Regions from separate parts of the Homo sapiens genome. Here region 1 is linked to region 2. The links come from fine-mapping of genetic effects on gene expression. A gene starts in region 2. The other region holds a variant in brackets. All regions are shown on one strand. Distances are from middle to middle. Region 1 overlaps PRRX2 (paired related homeobox 2). Region 2 holds the start of PRRX2 (paired related homeobox 2).

Region 1 (10,513 bases), 33 kb before region 2:
GAGACCGTTCAGACTCCTGCGGCTTAATTGGCCACCCCTCTCTACCCGAACAAGTCGGAATGCTCGGCCCACACCCACCCACCTGGCTCCCCTGCTATGTCTCAGCCTCCACCAGGTACCCACCAGCTGCTGTGCCCCACCCAGGACAGCCTCACCAGTGGGGTGCATGCTCAGAGTCTGGGCACGGGGCCATCTTCGACATCTCCAGCATGTTTCCAATCACATCCTCACACAACAGCCAACCCTGGCTCTAGAAAATTCTCCATTACAGTAGGTCCTAGTCCACCTCCCTGTGGTCCCCACGACATGCTGTGTTTACACTTTGAAGGGCAGCACACAGGACTCTATTCCTCAACGACCCCCTTGCTAGCCTCTGAGGGCAGCTGTTCTGGTGATTTCAGCCACAGCTCTGGGAGCTGCCCCGCCCCCCTTGCCACACTTTGCCACGTGAAGAGGCTGGCACCACATCTTCCGCATTTCTTAAAAGGGAGTCCACTGACAATTTGCCTGGGAATTCCCCGGGAAGCTTGTTAAAGCCAGACACTCCCATCTCAAGGGTCCAGCTGGGAATCTGCAGTAGACACTCCCTCACCCGCAAGTTCAGGAACCACAAGCTTCAGAGCAGACATCTGGGAATGACATGGCTCAGACTGAAAGACACCAGTCCACACTCTAGCTCTGTACCGTCCAACGTGGGAGCAACGAGCTGCACGTGGCCATCTCAATGAAATTCTCACTGATTAAAATGAAATAAAAATACAAATTCCATTCCTCAGTCGAACAGGCCACATTTCAAGGGCTCAATATCCACACATGGCCAGTGGCCGCCACATTGGACAGCACAGATAGGAAACATTTTCATCATCACAGAGAGTTCTAGAAAGTTTTTTTTTTTTTTTTGAGACGGAGTCTCGCTCTGTCGCCCAGGCTGGAGTGCAGTAGCGCGATCTCTGCTCATTGCAAGCTCCGCCTCCCGGGTTCACGCCATTCTCCTGCCTCAGCCTCCCGAGTAGCTGGGACTACAGGCGCCCACCACCATGCCCAGCTAATGCTTTTGTATTTTTAGTAGAGACAGGGTTTCACCGTGTTAGCCAGGATGTTCTCGATCTCCTGACCTCGTGATCCACCCGCCTCAGCCTCCCAAAGTGCTGGGATTACAGGTGTGAGCCACCGCGCCTGGCAGTCGTAGAAAGTTTTGAGACGGAGTTTCACTCTGTCGCCCAGGCTGGAGTGCAGTGGTGCGATCCTGGCTCAGGGCAGCCTCTGCCTCCCGGGTTCAAGCGATTCTCCTGCCTCAGCCTCCTGAGTAGCTGGCATTACAGGCACCCGGCATCAGGCCTGACTAATTTTTTTGTATTTTTAGTATGGATGGGGTTTCACCATGTTGGCCAGGCTGGTCTCCAACTCCTGACCTCAAGTGATCCGCCTGCCTTGGCCTCCTAAAGTGTGGGATTACAGGCGTGAGCCACTGCGCCTGGCCTAAGGACATTTGAAAGGAAAAAAATCTCCTACAAATCCCACGACAACAGCATATCTGTTTAATTCTTTGCATACTTTTTGTTGCATGTCCACATGTATCTAGCTATCACATGACTCCATTTACAGTGTGCATGAATATCATTTTCTGTTTTGGATGGGGCATGGATTAAGAGCCTAGGATTGTGATCAGACACACCCAGGGATGCTGCGTATGGTTGCACAGGCTGTGCACTGTACAACTTCAGGGGTGCCATTCCCACAGACTCCAGTGTGACTGGTGTCCCCTGCAGTTATGCAGTGGACAACCTGCCCAACCATATCCCGCTTTCCTGGAAATAGCTGCATTCTGGTTCTGGCTTTCCATGCCAGCTCTGTGAGCTCTGTGAGACTCAGTGTCCCCACTGTAAGTGGGAACAGCAACACCTAAAGTGCCTCGACAATACCTGGCACCCAGTTAGTGGTCAAGTAACATCAGCTATCGCGTTGGTGACTGCCATGACCTCACCATTTTATGAAGCGAAGTCAATGTGATGGTGCAGGTAGACTGCTTCCCGCTGTGAGCGACACACAGTGAACGATGGTCCCTCAAGCTCCATCCTAAACCCTCTGCTCTGTTTCCTATCTTCTTCCTCACGTTAGTGTGAGCGGCTGCATCACTTCCCCTAGTGGGGATGCCAAAACGGCCTCACAGCCCTTCCCCTCTTGTGGGATATTTAGGTCTCTTGCGATTTTCCTCTATTGTAAACACTGTGAAAAATGTCTCATTTCTTTGTCCTTCTGCTGGATTTCAAGACCCCAAATCCTTCACATAAGTTCTTCCAACAGCGCTCTCCTCTCCAGAAGGAACCTTTTTGCTACCAAGTTGGTCAGAACAGGCCAGCCCACAAAAGGTGGCGTACTGGCTAAGCACCGTGGCTCACGCCTGTAATCCCAGCACTTTGGGAGGCTGAGGCGGGTGGATCGCTTCAGGCCAGGAGTTTGGGACCAGCCTGGACAACATGGCAAAACCCCCACCTTTACAAAAAATTAAAACATTAGCCGGGCATGGTGGCACGCACCTGTAGTCCCAGCAACTCAGGAGGCTGAAGTGGGAGGATCACTTGAGCCCGGGAGATGAAGGTCACAGTGAGCCACAATTGTGCCACTGCACTCCAGCCTGGGTGACAGGTTCAGACCCTGTCTCAAAACAACAATAACGGCCAGGTGTGGCTCTGCAATCCCAGCACTTTGGGAGGCGGAGGCGGGCAGATCACTTGAAGGCAGGAGTTCAAGACCAGCCTGGCCACCATGGTGAAACCCCGTCACTACTAAAAATACAAAAATTAGCCGGGCTTGGTGGCATGTGCCTGTACTCCCAGCTACTCAGGAGCCTGAGGCAAGAGAATCGCTTGAACCTGGGAGGCGGAGAGCCGAGATTGCGCCACTGCACTCCAGCCTGGGCGACAGAGCGAGGCTTCATCTAAAAAAAAAAAAAAAGCCAACAACAACAACAAACCAAAAAAAAATACAGCACCCCACTGAGGAAGAGCTGGACCCTGGCGGCAGGCTGCCTAAGTTCAAATCCCAACTTCACTGCTGTGTGACCCTGAGGAAGTTACAACCTCTCTGTGCTTCAGTTATCCCATCCAGAAAATGGGGATAACAAGATCTTCCTCCCAGAGTTGTTGTGAAAATTAAATGAAAGAATATATATATAAGGTTCTTAAAGCAGTGCCTGGCACGTAGTAAGTGCTAAATCACGTTAGCCATTAGTATATTTATCTGGAGTTAGGTGCGTGTGCGTTCCCCTCCCACACTTGCTGTATATTGGCTGTGCAGCTTTGAGGCAATTTACTGAACCTCTCTAGACCTCGGTTTGTAACTGTCTGGTGGAGACTTGGGATGCTGAGAGGCAGAAGCAACCATGTGCCTGGCACGCTGAGGTCTCTCTCCTGAACAGCTGCTGTCGGTGCCTCAGAGACCAAGTTCTCTGCTCCCTGGGACACTTCCTCCCCAAAGCTTGCACTGACACACACAGAGCAGAGGCTGCCCTGAAGGTGCCCAAGGAAAGAATTCATCCTTCGTGGATGCTTCCCAGAAAGCTGGGCTGGACCATGTAGAAAGCCATGGCACAGTCACACACTGGATATTCTTTATTCCGGGCGGATGCATAGCAGGTCCTCAATAAATACTGAATGAATATGTAAGTGAATGAATGAATGGATTTTGGCTCCTGATGGGAACATAATCTCAATTCTCTGCTTGCCCAAACACCTGAAAATTTGTATGCACTATACACCATTACAAGCCTTCTCACTTCTGGACCCTCCTATCTGCAGAAACTAATATATTGATGGATATATGTATACACACACACACACACACACACACACACACACATATATATATTTTTTTTGAGACAGAGTCTTGCCCTGTTGCCCAGGCTGCAGTGCAATGGCGTGATCTCGGCTCACTGCAACTTCCACCTCCTGGGTTTAAGTGTTTCTCCCACCTCAGCCTCCCAAGCAACTGGGATTACAGGTGCGCACCACCACGCCCAGCTAATTTTGTGTGTATATATTTTAGACGAGGTTTCACCATGTTGGCCAGGCTGGTCTCGAACTCCTGACCTCAAGTGATCTGCCCACCTTGGCCTCCCAAAGTTCTGGGATTATGGGCGTGAGCCACTGCGCCCAGCCTATTGATGGATTTTTTTAATTGACAGGCCAGAGCATGGGCTAGGGAAATCACCTCCCACAGGGAAATGCTTCAGCCTGGCTTTGCTGGTGCTCATAGTCAGAGGAACAGGCACAGCGGCCTTCCTGTGGGGAAGGGCCTCCAGCATGCCCTGGGAGGGAAGGGACAGTCAGGCTATCCTGATGGCCCTCCAGCTGGGCCAGCATCCTCCCTCTACTTCCTAGAGTTTAGGAACGAACCACCTTGTTTCCTGAGCCTCCAGACACCAGGAAGATTTGATCCCAAGCCCAAGGTTTCATCTCTGGAGTCCAGCAGGCAGGGTGGGAATCCTACCTTCTCCACATCCCAGCTCTGTGACTTTGAGCCTGTGACCGCTCCTCTCTGGGCCTGTTTCCCTGTGAAGTGGGCCCATAGGGCCTCAGATGGGATGGTAGTGACGTGAGGTAGTGACGTGAGGGGGCGTCCACCCAGTACTGACAAATGGCCAAAGCCTTGGCTGCCCAGTCTGGGTTGTCTCAACCTCTGCCCACACGCGCCTAGCAGGGATTAGTCTCTGAGTTGATGTGCATGGCTGACACCCCCACCCTACCCAGCATCCCAGCTCCCCTTTTCCGGAACAAGGAAGGCAGGCGTGGCGGGAAAAACCCGCTCTTGCCACGTGTGTTTCACCAAACACCCTCCTCCCGATCATGGGGAAGGGCTGCACACCAGGGGGAACTCGGGGAACTGCTGAGTCCCAAGCCCTGGGCAAGCCCTCTTCTCTGCAGCCAGACTGGGTTGGCCTGGCCCAGCCCGGCCTGGCAGCACCACCGCCTGGTCTTACGCTTCCTTTTGGTGGAGAACCATGGAGACAGAGCCTAAGTGCCCCCGCCCCCCCCCCCCCCCGCCCCATCCAACCACCCATTTCTCCTAAGCTCCCCTGCTGGGAGCTCCCAGCTCCACTGCTCACTTTATAGGCCCTGCGAGGGGGCCCAGAGAGCTGAAGGGGCTGGTCCAGAAAGGCAGAGCACCCCGAAGCTGCCTGGGGACGGGAAGGCTCGGTGCTGACAGCAGCCAGGACCAGGGACCACCTTGTGGTTAAGACAGATTTGGTGCGGAGCTGGGACCGGCCTCAATGAAGCCCTTGTACTCACCCAGTGGGTGAAAAGCCCCCTTCCGAATCCCGGCGCTTAAAACCCTCCAACCTCCACGCTCCCCTCCCCCACCCACATTTTGGCGTTTCTCGCATGCCCCAAAGGCCTCATCTTAGGGGAAGCTCTGACTCAGAATTTTGAAAAATCTTACGCACAAACTTAGGAAAACAAACTTCGGGGGGCGGGGAAGCGTCCCCAGCCCTTTGTGGGGTGGAGACAGCGGGGGCGCTAGCAGGGGGGCAGGTTTCTGAGAAGCCATCTTTCCCTCCCCCGGGACAGGGCCGAGGGGCGAGGCGGACCCCACCCGTCTCGTGGGTGGCTTTCCCATCTGGACGGGGAGCTGGCTTGCTGGGCGGGGGTCTCCCCTCCGCACGCGCGGGTCTGGGGTCGGTCCGAAATCCAGGGGATGCCAGGGCCGGCGCGCCAGCCGCCGCCGCCCAGCCCGGCCATGTGCGCGCCAGCCAGTGCGTGCGAGCGCGCCGCGCTGGTGGCGGCCAGAGCGGCGCCGCGGCACATCTGGTTCCAGACGAGCCCCTGGCGCCTGCCTCGCCGCAGTCCCGCGGCCCAGACACACAGACGTTAATAGATCCCGCGCCCAGCCCCGCGCTGCCCGCGCCGCCGCCGCCCAGCTGCTCCGAGGGTGCGCGCCCCGGCCGGGCGGGAGGGGGCACGGCCTAGGGGAGGGGGAGCGGGACGCAGCGCTCCCCTGCAGCCCAGCCAGCTCCCTCCTCGCCTTCCTTCCAGCTCAGACACCTCCCTCTCCACTCCCGCTCTCCAGGCAGGTCCCGGGTGGGAGCCAGGACTGACTGCTCTTTCCTATCCTGGCACCGAGTGCAAGGGAATCCAACCCCCGATTAGTGACAAAGGCAGTTCCTACGTGTCCAGCTCCGGCCAAGGCCAAGGCTAAGGGCCAGGCCGGGCCGGGCGCCTATGGGCGTGTCTCCACACACGGTAACCCTATGAGGCAGGTACTGCTGCTACCGTCCCCGTTTAACAGTCGGGA[T/A]AACCGAGACTAGGGAGGGAGGTCAGTCGCCCAAGGTCACACAGCGAGAAAGCTGCAGAGCGGCCATTCAGCTGGTCTATCGGACTCTGGCCCCAGGGGGGTCCGCGCTGCACCCCCTCTTCAACTGCTAGCCCACACACCTGGAACTCAAAGTCACCTTCACCCGGGGCGCCCCTCCCTTGCCCTCCCTCTGTCAGGGACCCCCTCTGCACCTGCAACCTTGATCCCTTAGCGAGGGTCCTCCCACCCAAGCATCTGGGGAAAGTGAAGCTTTGTGGGGACTCTGCAGGAATTTGCCCAGCTCCTTTCCCTTGGCAAGGCGGCAAGACAGCTGCTTATTTGGAATCCACCCCTTATCAAACCGGGAACCGAGGGTAGCTTTGCTTTATAAAATGTATTTTTTAAAAATTATTATTACTATTATTTTTTTCGAGACAGGGTCTAACTCTGTGGCGCAGGCTGGAGTGCAGCGGCGCGATCTGGGCTCCGCTGCAGCCTTGAACTCTCAGGCTTAAGCGATCCTCCCACCTGAGCCTCTAGAGTAGCTGAAATTACAGGCGCCCACTACCACGCCTGGCCAATTTTTGTATTTTTTGTAGAGACGGGGTTTCACCATGTTGCCCAGGCTGGTGCCTAACCCCTGGGCTCAAGCGATCCATCCGCCTCAGCCTCCCAAAGTGCTGGGATTCCAGGCGTGAGCCACCGTGCCCAGCCAAGGTGCCCTGCTTTAGAAGTACCATTCTACTATTCAGGGGTATGTGGCTTGTTTTCGTTTTGAAAAGGGGGCTGTGAGCATTAGGACCCCCCACACTAGATTCCATGATAATACATCTGAGTCTTAGCCAGTTGGTGAGTGGAGGTGGGTTTTGTCTTCCTCCCTTTCTCTCCTTCTGTGACTCCCTACCCCACCTTTCTTTTTTTTTTCGTTTTCTTTCTTTTACTGTGGACTTTAGCTCCTATGGGCTAAGCATGTGTGCTTGCAAATTCCAAGTAATTTGTTGGCTCCAGATTAAACTTCAGCTTTCCGCCTTCTCAGAGGGGGCTTTATAAGGAAATGGGGCCACATCAAAGTGCCATGTTCACCCTTAAAATGGGAGAAGAGTGTTTTTTTCTGAGCTGCTTACATGACAGCAGAGGTTCTGTTTAGAACTTTCCCGTTAATGCTCTCTGAATTCACTTGTGGGGGCTTGTTAACTTGGGCTGTCAGAAATTCTGGATTTTAGAAAAAAAACTCACTTTTAAAAAGTTCCCCGCCTAAAGGTAGTGAGGCCCATAATGGCCTGGTGAATGTGCCTAAGCATCTGAAAGCAGCGGGAAAGTCCTTTTGACTTCCCAGCCAAGTCTCCTGTTAAAGGTTTGGGGTGGCGGGGGCCTGGAGGAAGAGCAGCGTGGGCCAGGAAAGGGAGGTGCCTGCCAGCTGGGGGCTCCCGGCCCGGCTCCCAGCTCTGTGCCAGGCTAAGACTGAGCCCTTCCCCAGCAGGCCTGAAAAGGGGGTAAACACAACAAGGCTGTGGGGTGTATAAAAACCAAACCAAAGAAGCACATTGGTCAAGTAAAGCCCAGAGCAAGAGACCGGGAATTTGGAGGGAAGCTGATTCTTCAAGCATCTGCCATTTCCGCAGCCTCTCTCTTTGAAAAGACAGTTTCCTCTGGGGCTAAAGACAGCTGGTGGCAATTTCAGGTCACAGAACTCTGTCCTCTTGCCTTTCCTTCTCCTCCATGGCCTCTCCTCTGTCCCCCTTAGCCAGAAACCTCTGGAGGGAGTGTTGATTACGGGCCACCTATCCACACTCACGGACTGTGGGGTGGAGAAGGGAATAATCCTCCTAGAACTTCTAGAATGACCCTGGATCTTCATGAGGCCCTGGCCTTGGCCAGGTCCAGCCACTTGCCTGTGGGGTGTTGGGGTTCTCCCTGGACTGCTAGGTGACCCCAAAAGATTAATCAGTGGGTACTGGGACCCTGCCCCCAGACCCCTCTGAGCCAGCCTGCAGCTCGCCCCATTCCTCCTCCATGGTGAGCCCTTTCATCTGGAAGCTGCAGGCAAGTGGGTCTTGGGGGGCTGATGAGAGGGGATGGTGGCTGAATCCCCCAGGCCAGAAGGCTGGCCCAGCCATGAAGCCTTCGTTGGACCACTAGGGTCATGGCACACATCATAGTGTTTATCACTATTCTGAATGGGGCTCCCTCCGCTGCCCCCCATGGACTCCCCTATGTGCCAGGTACTTTAAACACACACACACACAGAGCTTGGAGGAATCCTCACACCTGCAAACCCAGGAAGCAAGTATTAACAAGAGGAAGAAACAGGATCTGTGGGGTCAAGTGACTTCTCTAAGGCCACACAGCCAGTTGGTGGAAGAACTGGGACTCATCCACATCCTGATGCACCAGATTCCAGCACCCAAGCTTCCAACCCCTGAACCGCGCTGCCTCCCTGCCGAGCACGCATGAATCTCCCTTCACCTTCTCCCCAGGAGGCAGCCAGCACAGAATGTCAGAGTCAGAAGGGACTTCTGAAGGGCTGGACACGGTGGCTTATGCCCATAATCCCAGCACTGTGGGAGGCCGAGGCGGGCGGATCACTTGAGGTCAGGAGTTGGAGACTGGCCCAGCCAACATGGCAAAAACCCATCTCTACTAAAAATACACAAGTTAGCCGGGCATGGTGGCACACACCCATAGTCCCGGCTAGTCGGGAGGCTGAGAGAATGGCTTGAATCCAGGGAGGCAGGAGAATGGCTTGAATCCAGGAGGCAGAGGTTGCAGTGAGCCAGGATCAGGCCACCGCACTCCAGCCTGGGCCACAGAGGGAGACTGTCTTAGAAAATTAAAGGGGAGACGTGGGGTGTTTTTGAGCACACTCAGGCCGGGGCTGGCTCATGGTGTCATTTCCCTGCCACTCCTGATCGCCTGCTAGTAGCTGCTTAGAACCCTGTGTTGTGGAGGATTCGGAGGGTCTCTGGTGGATGAGCTTCGTCTGCCATGGGCTCAGGAAGAGCTTCAGAAAAACCCCAAGCAAGGACTCTGCCTTCACTCCCTGCTGGGGGCCCTTTCTACCTCCAAGGACACAGCAAACTATGTCACGTGTGGCATCGTCTTACCATCCCTTGTCCCTTGACACGCTCATTTTGGGAAGTTCCACATAGACCACAGAAAGACATTTGAAGAGAATGATGTTCAATTCTGCCTTTTAAAATAAACAAGCAGCAATGTGGCATTGCCAGGAGGCAAACCCTCGTCCCTCTTCCAAGGCCTTGGTGGTGGCAGGAAAAATTATCCAACCTCTCTGGACATATTTCCAATAGGGACAATATTCTTCCTCCTGCACATAAATACTGTATTAACCAGTAATGATGGCAAGGCGAGTTTTGCCCCAAAAGAACGATCTTTTTTTTTTTTTTTTTTGAGACAGAGTTTCGCTCTTGTCGCCCAGGCTGGATGGAGTGCAATAGCGTGATCTCAGCTCACTGCAACCTCTGCCTCCTGGGTTCAAGTGATTCTCCAGCCTCAGCCTCCCAAGTAGCTGGGATTACAGGCACCCACCACCATGCCCAGCTAATTTTTGTATTTTTAGTAGAGACGGGGTTTCGCCATGTTGGCCAGGCTTGTCTTGAACTCCTGACCTCAGGTGATCCGCCCGCCTTGGCCTCCCAAAGTGCTAAGATTACAGGTGTGAGCCACCGCACCCAGCTGAGAACAATCTATTTTTTTTAAAAGACTATCTACCATGAGAAAACTTCTTTAGCAGATTAAATTATAAACAACCTGATTTTAAAATGGACGGAAGCCCTGAGCAGACACCTCACCAAAAAGACAGACAGATGGCAAGTAAGCATATGAAAGATACACCGTATCTTGTATCACTGGGGAAATGCAAATTAAAACTACAGTGAGATACCACCACACGGCTATTAGAATGCCCAGAATCCAGAACACTGACAACCAAATGCTGGCGAAGATGTGGGGCAACAGGAACTCTCATCCACTGCTGGCGAGAATGCGAAATGGTACAGCCACTTTGGAAGACAGCTTGGCCGTTTCTTACAAAACTAAACATACTTTTACCGTACGATTTGGCCATCACACTCCTTGGTTCCTACCCAAATGAGGTGGAAACTTCTGTCCACAAAAAGGCCTGCCCAGGGATGTTTATAGCAGCTCTGTTCATAATTGCCAAAACTTAGAAGCAACTAACACGTCCTCCAGTAGGTGAATGGAT
Region 2 (10,513 bases):
TCCCAAATCATTAAAAGCAGGGACTTGTATACATCCACGTCCACAGCGGTGCTGTTCACAGTAGATGGGAACAACCCACGTGTCTGTAGATGGGTGAACGGATACAATGTGGTCCATCCGTACAGTGGAATGTGATTCGGCCTTCAGAAGGAAGGAGACTCTGACGCATGCTACACGGGTGAGCCCTGTAGACGTCACATTAAGTGAAATAAGACGGTCACAGAACGGCAAATACTGTAGGATTCCACTTACATACGAGATCCCTAGGGTAGTCAAATCCACAGAGACAGGAAGCAGACTGCTGGGTGCCAGGGGCTGGGGGAGGGGGAATGCATGTTCAAGGGGGTGCGGTTTCAGTTTGGGAAGATGAGAAAGTTCTGGAGATGGATGGTGGTGGCGACTGCACGACAATGTGAACGGACTTAATGCCACCGGACAGCATTCTTGTAAATGGTGAAAATGGTCAATCTGATGTTAGGCATCTTTTATCGCAATAAAAAATAATTGAAGGTAGGTCTGCCAGTCTCTTAACTCAGTCTCTTAACTCAGGCCCTGAGCTGAGCCCTGGGGACCCCCACCACAAACCAGACCCACCCCTATGAACAGATGCACCGACAGCCCCTCGAGGGCTCCCACCTCACCCTGCCTTGCCCCGTGCCTTAGATGCAAGCACTTCATCTTCCGAAATCTCTGGAAAATGAATCCACGTGGGATCCCAAGGTTTCTCCTGCAGTGAATCCTGGGGTTTTCCAAAGCAGGTACCAGCCCTGAGCACTGGCCGCCCAGCCTTCCCTGGCCAGAGGCCTCACCCCTGCCTGGCTCTAGGGGCTTTGTTTATTTTCCCAGTGTGTCCACGTCCCCGTTTCCACTCTGCCCACAGGAGGGAATGCTTTAGAGAAAATCTCAGTTATTAATGTGGTTTCTTTTGTTGTAAGTCATTGCAAAGGCAGCAAACCAGGGTTTGTTTTCCTAACGTGCCTGGTGCAGCCCTCAGCGTTTGACTGGCGAGGAAGGAACCCGCGACCCTGGTTTGTTCTGAGTCACTGGCGAAGCCACGGTCTTCCCGGCCATTTCTGGAGGGAGCCTGGTCTTAGAAAGTCATTGGCAGTAGCGGGCTTTATCTACTGGTGGCTTTGTGCAAACAAAAATTTTTAAATTAAAAAAAGTTTGAGCCTGCTATCCCAGCAGATTGAAGACGTATTAATTCCTAACTCATTGGTGTCCCCCATTAACCCTTATTTTTCTTTCTTTCTTTCTTTTTTTTTTCTCCTGCCTCAGCCTCCCGAGTAGCTGGGATTATAGGCGTCTGTCACCACACCTGACTAATTTGTGTAGTTTTAGTAGAGATGCAGTTTCACTATCTTGGCCAGGCTGGTCTTGAACTCCTGACCTTGTGATCCAACTGCCTCAGCCTCCCAAAGTGCTGGGATTACAGGTGTGAGCCACTGCACCTGGCTAACCCTTATTTTTCTAATGGGGGCACTCCCTCTTTGGTGCCATCTCTTTCTTTTCTTTTCTTTCTTTCTTTTTTTTTTTTTTTTTTTTGAGATGGAGTCTCATTCTGTTGCCCAGGCTGGAGTGTGCAGTGGTGCAATCTTGGCTCACTGCAACCTCCGCCTCCCGGGTTCAAGGGATTCTCCTGTCTCAGCTTCTCCAGTAGCTGAGATTACAGGCATGCACCACCACACCCGGCTAATTTTGTATTTTTAGTAGAGATGGGGTTTCACCATGTTAGCCAGACTTGTCTCAAACTCCTGACCTCTAGTGATCCAACCACCTCAGCCTCCCAAAGCACTGGGGTTACAGGTGTGAGCCACCGCCCCCGGCCAGACCATCTTTCTTTGGACCTGAAAACAACTCCAAGAGCCACAGGAAAACCCACCTCCAAGCATGTCTGGATCCGTGGTGAGGGGACCGGGCTCCTGTATGTCCAGGACTGGAGGATGATGCCGCAACCCAAGACTCAGCCCACTGGCCTGGGGTCTGCAGTCCCGGCAAGCCCAGCAAGGTTTGGCTGCCCACTTTCAAAGGGTCGATGATGGGGAAAGAAGGATCCCATCTCCCCCACCTTTGGAGCCTTCAGGACTTGGGAGTCCACAGCAAGTGGCAGTGGTGGGGCCGCCTGACCCAGATGGATGAGTTGGAAACTGGCGCCTGCCCTGCAGTCCCCTCTCTCCACCTTCTGCCTGTAGACCCAGATCCGGGCCACACCCCGGGCGGAGCCCAGGGACTCTCCCTGCCAGGGCTCCATCGTCCTCAGGGCAGAGCTAGGCAGCTTCCAAGACGGACCAGCCCACGAGCGCCTCCTGGAGCCTGGCCCAGACCCCACCCCACCTGATCCCACACCCAGTGTGTCCCAAGCATGCCTGGGTACTCCCAGTGTGCCAATGCCCCTTCTTAGGAGAAGGCCTGGAGGCCTCATGGGCTCTCCAGGAGGGTGGCTAGCCCCAGGGAGCTGCTGGGGAGACCCACTGCACACCCAGCTGCCTGGAGGCTGCCAAGGGCCTTGTCTAGGCGCCCACATCCCCAGCTGACACTAGCTGTTCTGGGATCCCCGGGGAAACCCGCCACCAGAGACCTCCAACACCGTGTCCGGGAGAAGCACGGCCTTCCCTGGCTGTCCCCACAGCAGGGGTAGGTCAGAAATGGGCAGGCCGTCCCCTGGCCAGGACTGGAGTACGAGACACCCTGGCCCCCTTCCTTCCCTCCTCACCCCTCTCTCCTCTCCCTTCCTTCCTCTTCCTCTGTCTCTCCTCCCTCTCTCTCTCCTTTCCTTGCCTTCTCCTTTCCTTCTTTCCCTTCACCTTCAAGTTGTTCCTCCTTCTCTTCCCAACCCCTGGAGTCTCCCTTCATCAGGGTAAACCGGGACCTCTCCTCTGTCCTGGGGTTGGGGGACCGGCTCAGAGCCGCTGAGGTCCTCAAATGACCTTGGGCCGGCAGGGCATTCCCCCAGCACAAACCAGAGGGCACCTGCTTTCCTCCGGGCCAGAGTGGACATCTCCCTCCCCTTTTCTACTGAGGAGCTAAACCCCAACTCCTGGGAGGTCTGCTGGCTTCACACTCACCCCGGAGGGTGCAGCCAGTGGCCAGTCCACTGTGGCCAGTGAGTGGTGGCCGCTGCCATGAGGGAGCCAGTGGCTTCATCTCAGCCACAGGCTGGCAGAAGGTGCCCCGTGAAAGGCAGGCGTGTCGCAGGCGTCCTCGTGGACGCACATGGATTCAGACTAGGCTGCAGCCACCTCTGTTTTCCCTGCACCTCCTGTCTCTGAAAAGCCAAGGAACGCAGCCACCAGCCTGGGCACCCTGAGACCTGGAGGCTGGTGCCGGGAACAGGGTCCCCCGGGGCGGGTGGGAGGGCTGCTGGAGTCAGGCGGGCACACTTCAGGGGCCCAGAGCCCCCAGCAGGCCGGCCCATCCCCAGAGCTAGGGGACAGGGGCCTGGTTTCAGATCACCGGGCCCCCATCCTTAGTGTGTGCTGAGCCGCGAGGACTCCGGTCCTCCCCTCCCCCACTGAACCGTCCGGGGCTGGGGCCTTTGCTTTTTCTCCATCTTCTCCCCGTCCCTCCCCTTCTTACCAAGGGCTCAGGACCCTGCCATCCTGTGTCACTTTTTGAAAAAGGCCACTTGGGTGGGTTGTTTGTTTTTAAAGCCCCTTCCTGATGACCTTTGACCTCTGCCGGGGAAGAGAGGCCTGGCTGGGCCGTTCCACCGAGGCAGCTGCTCCCGGGGCAAACTGGAGGGTGGGGGGGGGTGGGCAGGCACCCTCGCCCCCCAAAGAGCCCAACTTAAGACCGAGGAGGAGCTGGGGCGGCGCTAGCTCGTGCGGGAGGGGGCGGGTTTGAAACCCCAACGTGCAGCTCAGCGGCTTTGCCCGACTCAGGTCTCTGTTTCCCCAGTTGTAACCCGGCAGCAGCCACACCCACTTCCCAGGCTGTTCGGGAGCCGAATACTGGGGAGCGAAGGCAGCGCACTTCCCCGTGGGGACGCACCCCAAGACCCGAAGAGGGTCCCCCTCCCCCAGCCCAGAGTGCTGGTCAACCGCCGTCCACCGTCACTTACACGCGCCCCCAGAAGTCCTGCCGCCGACCACGCGCCCTGCATCTTCGCCCGCCCCGCGCCGGCTCCCCGGACCCCGCGCCCCGGCCCCGGCCCCGGCCCCGGCCCCGCCACCCCCGTCCCTGGCCGGCCGTACTCACCATCCTGCGGCGCCGCCTCGCTGCCGCTGCTGCCCCCGGACGGCTCCCGTGCTGCGCCCTCCCGCGCCTCGGCCCTGGCCCCGGGGCGCGCCGCCAGCCGCCCGGCCGCCGCCACCTCTTCCAGGTCCAGGAGGTGGCTCACCGAGAAGTTCTTGCGCGCCTGGGCGCAGTCGCCGGGCCCCAGCGCGGGTGGAGGCGGCGGCGGCCCCGGGCCCAGCGCCGGCTTGTCCAGGGCGAAGGCGGCGGCCGCGCTGTCCATGCCCGCGAGCGGCCCCGGGGGGGCCGGCGGGGGTCTCGGGCTCGGGTCCCAGGAAGGGTCGCGGGCGCGGGTCGGAGCGAGAGCCCCGGCCGCCCCGCGCTCTGCCCAGCTCCCGCCGCCTCCTAGCCTCGCGGCCCGCCCGGCGCTGACGTCGGGGAAACAAACTTTCCGCCCTCCCCTTCTCAGCCACGGCCGCTCGCTCCGGAGCCGCTGGTGCACGCGCTGCGCCGGCCACACGCCCCTTCTTGAAGCAAACCTCGCCCCCCGTCCTCTCCTCCGCCCTCTCCTCCCCGCGCGCCTCGCCCGCCCCCACCCCGGCTGCTGGCGCTGGGGGCGGGGAAGGGGTGTCCTCCCTTCACCCTCCCCACCCACTTTTTAGGGAGTGGGAGGTTCCGTGTTTTGTCGTTTTCCATCCCCCAAGTATCTGGGAGGTGATGGCAGAGGGATTCCCCCCTTCCCTTTACAATCGCCTCCGCAGGTGGAGGGGGCGGCCCAGAGACGAAGGCGACGAGCCCCCCACTCCCAGCTCCAGCCTCACTCGCCTCAGCGCCCCCAACAACGGCCCCGCCCGCCCGCGCTGGCCGACAGAGCTCTGTGCACACCACCCGCCCCAAGGCTGTCTCTCCCAGCAGGCAGCGCATCCTCAGGCTCCTGGGGTGTACGCGACCCCCCACCCCGCCTCTCCCCCGCTGCTCCCTGCCAGGTCCCCCACACACACCCACACACCCGGTGCCCACCCCCCAGGAGGCCCCAGGCCCTTCCCCAAGGAAAACCAAGCGGAGAGGCAGGCGCTTCGTTGCAGAATTCCTGGCGCACACACAGAGGACAGCCAGCCTGAGACGGGTGACAGGAAAGAGAGAGGCAGACTTAGGTGTCCGCTCTTGTTTCAGTTTTGTTTTTCAATGAAAGCACAGAAAAGATGTGCGGAGTGAGCAGACCTGAGACCCTAAGCCCCCCGGATGCCACTGCTCTTTCTCCAGGACAGCCGCTCACCGGCCCGTCCCTCTGTCGCCCTGCCCTCACTACGAGGCATAAAGTCACATCAGCCAAAGTCGCCTACCGGAGGAAGCCTTCAGCACATCCTTTCCCTGTTCCCATATGGAAAACCGGCCCGCACACATCCCTGAAAGCCTGCGGACCATTATTTTTATTTATTATTTATTATTATTATTTATTTTTATTTTTTTGAGACAAGAGTCTGGCTCTGTCGCCCAGGCTGGAGTGCAGTGTCGTGATCTCGGCTCGCTGCAACCTCCGCCTCCTGACTTCAAGCGCTTCTCCTGCCTCAGCCTCTCGAGTAGCTGGGATTACAGGTGTGCATCACCATGCCCGGGTAATTTTTGTATTTTTAGTAGAGGAGGGGTTTCACCATGTTGGCCAGTCTGGTTTCCAGCGTCTGACCTCAGGTGATCCACCTGCCTCGGCCTCCCACAGTGCTGGGATTACAGGCGTGAGCCACCGCACCCAGCCGGGAACACTATTTTTAAGGAAAGCCTAGCAATACATTATAATACATTAATCCTCACAGCGTGTGTTGTTTGTGTCCGCCCCCACCCCCTCCCGCGCTGGAAAGGAATCGACTTCAAAATGAGGCCGAGTAGGCCGGGCACAGTGGCTCACGCCTGTAATCCCAGCACTGTGGAAGGCTGAGGTGGGTGGATCACCTGAGGTCAGGAGTTCGAGACCAGCCTGGCTAACATGGTGAAACCCTGTCTCTACTAAAAATAATAATAATAAAAAAAATTAGCTGGGCATGGTGGCAGGCGCCTGTAATCCCAGCTACTGGGGAGGTTGAGGCAGGAGAATAGCTGGAACCTGGGAGGCGGAGGTTGCAGTGAGCCGAAATCACGCCATTGCACTCCAGCCTGGGCAACAAGAGTGAAACTCCATCTCAAAAAATATATATAAATTAAATTAAATAAGAAATAATAATTTAAAAAATGAGGCCGAGTGTCCCTGAAGTGTCTTTAGCCACAGCAATCCGTGCAGGTGCACACATGGGTAGGGAGGGTTTGGAGATGACGGGGTTCTCCGTCCTTGGACCTCTGCTCCAAGGAGTGTCCAGCAAGAAAGGCCAGCAAAGAGGCGCCAGTCTCCCTCATCCTAGGCGGCTGGGAGGAGCCCAGTCTGGGCACCAGGGCATACCCAGTGCTGCCCACAGTGTGTGTGGCTGAACCACTTTCTGAGGAACCGAGCAGGGTAGGGCCACTACTGGGCTCAGGATGTCTGGGAGGACCCTGCCCCTGCACCCAGCAAAACCCTCAGAGTGGAGGGGTCTTACCCAGGAAAAGCACAGCCCACTGAGTAGAGGCTTCATCCCAGAGGCAGAACAGTTTTGTGTTGGAGACAGGGTTCCAGCCCCAGCTATGCCCCTACTGCCATGTGGCCTCAAATTCAGCACCTTGGCCGGGCGTGGTGGCTCACGTCTGTAAGCCCAGCACTTTGGGAGGCCGAGGTAGGTGGATCACCTGAGGTCAGGAATTTGAGACCAGCCTGGCCAACATGGCAAAACCCCATCTCTACTAAAAATACAAAAATTACCTGGGCATGGTGGCATGCACTTGTAATCCCAGCTACTCGGGAGGCTGAGGCAGGAGAATCGCTTGAACCTGGGAGGAGGTTTCAGTGAGCCGAGATCGCGCCACTGTGCTCCAGCCTGGGCAACAGGAGCAAAATTCCATCTCAAAAAAAAAATCAGCACCTCCCCTCTCCAAGCCCCAGCTCCCTGACAGTGGAAGGCGCCTAATGAAGAGCCTGTCTCCTGGGCACAATGGGGACTCCATAGTAGGTGAACTTCTGGGCCCATGGCCTGGAACACACAGAGGGTACTGTTGACATTGGCCTGTGCAGTCAAAGGGCCTGAGGGATCATCTAGATCATTCCCTTGGAAGACAGATGGGAAAACTGAGGCCAAAAAAAGGTGAAAGCTCTTCTGGAGCTGGGAGAACCATGGAAATTGTTTGGTTTAAGCCCTTTTGTTTTACAGATCAGCAATGCGAGGCCCAGAGCTGGGAAGCGCAGTGTTCCGATCTCTCGGCATGGCCAGTGGCCACAGTGGCTTCTTCCACTCACTCCTGCAATTACTCATCCTACACATGTTGAGAGGTAACTCCATCTCTGTAGCATGATGGCTGTCTGGCACCAGCCTCCTGGGTGCAGATCAAGACCTTGCCTGAGCTTTGAGCAATCTATTTAGCCTCTTTCTCTTGGGGGCCTTAAATGTAAAATGAGCTGACTGGGTGTGGTGGCTCAGGCCTGTAATCCCAGCACTTTGGGAGGCTGAGGTAGGAGGATCTTTTGAGCCCAGAAGTACAAGACCAGCCTGGGCAACATAGTGAGACCTCATCTCTAGAAAAAAAAAGTAGCTGGTGTGGCAATGCATGCCTATAGTCCCCAGCTACTTGGAGGCTGAGATCGGAGGATTGCTTGAGCCTGGGAGGTTGAGCTACAGTGAGCTGTGATGGCACCGCTGCACTCCAGCCTGGGCAGCAGAGTGAGACCCTATCTCTCTTTTTTTTTTAATTTAATTTTATTTATTTATTTATTTATTTTTAGTATTTATTGATCATTCTTGGGTGTTTCTCGCAGGGGGGGATTTGGCAGGGTCATAGGACAATAGTGGAGGGAAGGTCAGCAGATAAAGAGACCCTATCTCAAAAAAAAAAAAAAAAAGAAAGAAAGAAAAAGAAAAAGAAAATGAGCTGTTAGGAGGATTAAATAAACCAATGTATAAATAAAGGACACCTGGTACCTAGTGAGCATTTAATACATGTTAACAATGATTATTTTTTAAATATCTGGCTGGGCGCAGTGGCTCATGCCTGTAATCCCAGCACTTTGGGAGGCTGAGGCGGGCAGATCACCTGAGGTCAGGAGTTTGAGACCAGCCTGGCCAACATGGTGAAACCCCATCTCTACTAAAAATACAAAAAATTAGCTGGGTGTGGTGGCGGGCACCTGTAATCCCAGCTACCCAGGAGGCTGAGGCAGGAGAATTGCTTGAACCCGGGAGGCAGAGGTTGCAGTGATCCAAGATCTCGCCATTGCACTGCAGCCTGGGCAACAAGAGTGAAACTCTGTCTCAAAAAATAAATAAATACATAAATACATAAAACAAATAAAATAAACATATGTTCTGAGAAGTAGACAGGGCAAGGATGGTGAACTCGGACTGTGCAGCTGAGGGACATGGGTATGAATCTACCCACTGCCATTTACTGGCTGCGTGGCCTTGAATATGTCACTTGCCCATCCTCCCTGAGTCTGTCCCATCGTCTGTAAAATAGGAATAGTAGAGGAGCCAATCCAAAGGGTTCTTGTGGATTTACCATCATTATTGTTGCTGCCTATTCCCTTGCCCAGCCTGGGGATAAGGGCTGGGGTTGGGGCAGGGATGGAAGGGTGGGGCAAAGGGCATAGACTGCTGCACTGTGCAATAAGACAAGAAAGCAATAAGACAAGAAAAAGGGATGAACTAAAAATAATTCGAATATATCTTTGTAGCTTATCTCTATATATCTAGAGAGATGAAGAAAGTTCTATAATATACAGTCCTACATATAGTTTTATGTTTAGGATTGTATACTATAGTCCTATGTTATAAAAGTGGAAGTATGTTTACCTCCTGTTTTATAACCTGCTGAGCATGAGCGTCAGCTCTGATCCAGCCTGGGAATACACCCAAGGAAACTCCAGGGAATCCCAGGAGGGCAGAACTCAGGGACTCATCACCCCAAAGGGATATGGCTAAAAATAAATCATTTCATGATGATTTTGATAAATCTGAGAGGCTAACCCAGAAGAGGAAATGGAGGGCAAATAGGATTCCCATTCAGAACCTCTCAGATCAACTTGTGGTTACTGAGCCGGGCACTGCAGCCAGCCAGGGAGAAAGGGAAGGGAAAGAAAGAGGGCCCCTGCTCACCAGATGGGATTCGCGGAGAAGGAGCTGATTATTCACTGGTGGTTCCATTTGAGGCTAAGTTCTAGGTCTGACCTTCAGTGAAAACTCATATTTGCCCCAGTCTCAAAAGCTCACATGTTAAAAATGAAAAGGTAACTTTTCTTATTGCAAAAGTAATATGTTATGGTTGAGATTTTAGAAAGCATCATTAGAATTAAGAGAATAAAAATCACCTATAACCCATTCCTAAAAGGCCTTAACACACACACGAGGCGTTCAAGACTTTTTCCTTTTTTTTTTGAGATGGAGTTTTGCTCTTGTTGCCCAGGCTGGAGTGCAATGGCGTAATCTCGGCTCACCACAACCTCTGCCTCCCAGGTTCAAGTGATTCTCTTGCCTCAGCCTCCCGAGTAGCTGAGATTACGGGCATATACCACCATGCCCAGCTAATTTTTGTATTTTTTAGTAGAGATGGGGTTTCTCCATGTTGGTCAGGTTGGTCTTGAACTCCTGACCTCAGGTGATCCGCCCACCTCGTCTTCCCAAAGTGCTGGAATTACAGGTGTGAACCACTACGCCCGGCCACTATGGGCTTTCGTTAAGGCTCCTAAACTCTTTAGGCTTCAGTTTCCCCATTTGCTTTTTCCTTTCCTTTTCTTTCTTTCTTTCTTTGTTTTTTTTTTTTGTTTGTTTGTTTTTGTTTTTTTTGAACAGGGGGTCTCACTCTGTCTCTGTCATCCAGGCTGGAGTGCAATGGCACAATCTCGGCTTACTGCAACATCTGCCTCCCAGGTTCAAGCGATTCTCCTGCCACAGCCTCCGGAGTAGCTGAGATTACGGGCATACAGCACCACACCCAGCTAATTTTTGTACTTTTTAGTAGAGACGGCGTTTCTCCATGTTGGTCAGGCTGGTCTGGAACTCCTGACCTCAGGTGATCCGCCCACCTTGGCTTCCCAAAGTGCTGGGATTATAGGCGTGAGCCACCGCGCCTGGCCACACCGTTATTTTCTTAAGAATAAATACCTAGAATGGCCGGGCGCGGTGGCTCACGCCTGTAATCCCAGCACTTTGCGAGGCCGAGGCGGGCAGATCACAAGGTCAGGAGATCGAGACCATCCTGGCTAACACGGTGAAACCCCGTCTCTACTAAA

What was found. PIP is the estimated chance that this variant, and not a neighbour inherited with it, causes the effect. A credible set is the group of variants that fine-mapping cannot tell apart.
Region 1: its variant is the best candidate, but not a certain one, in a credible set for the expression of PRRX2 in fibroblasts (GTEx, PIP 0.51).

The regions. Positions count from the first base shown.
Region 1 is chr9:129,692,785-129,703,297 of GRCh38, reverse strand. The region is part of intron 1 of PRRX2 (paired related homeobox 2); the gene reads right to left. Among named protein-coding and RNA genes, the nearest start is that of PRRX2-AS1, 21 kb to the left of the region's middle. The variant T/A (reference allele first, on the strand shown) is at 6,292.
Region 2 is chr9:129,659,811-129,670,323 of GRCh38, reverse strand. It overlaps PRRX2 (paired related homeobox 2), which reads right to left and starts at 4,677. Exons shown (of 4, transcript NM_016307.4): 1 at 4,198-4,677. The coding sequence starts at 4,456. RefSeq lists enhancers at 165-664, 665-1,166.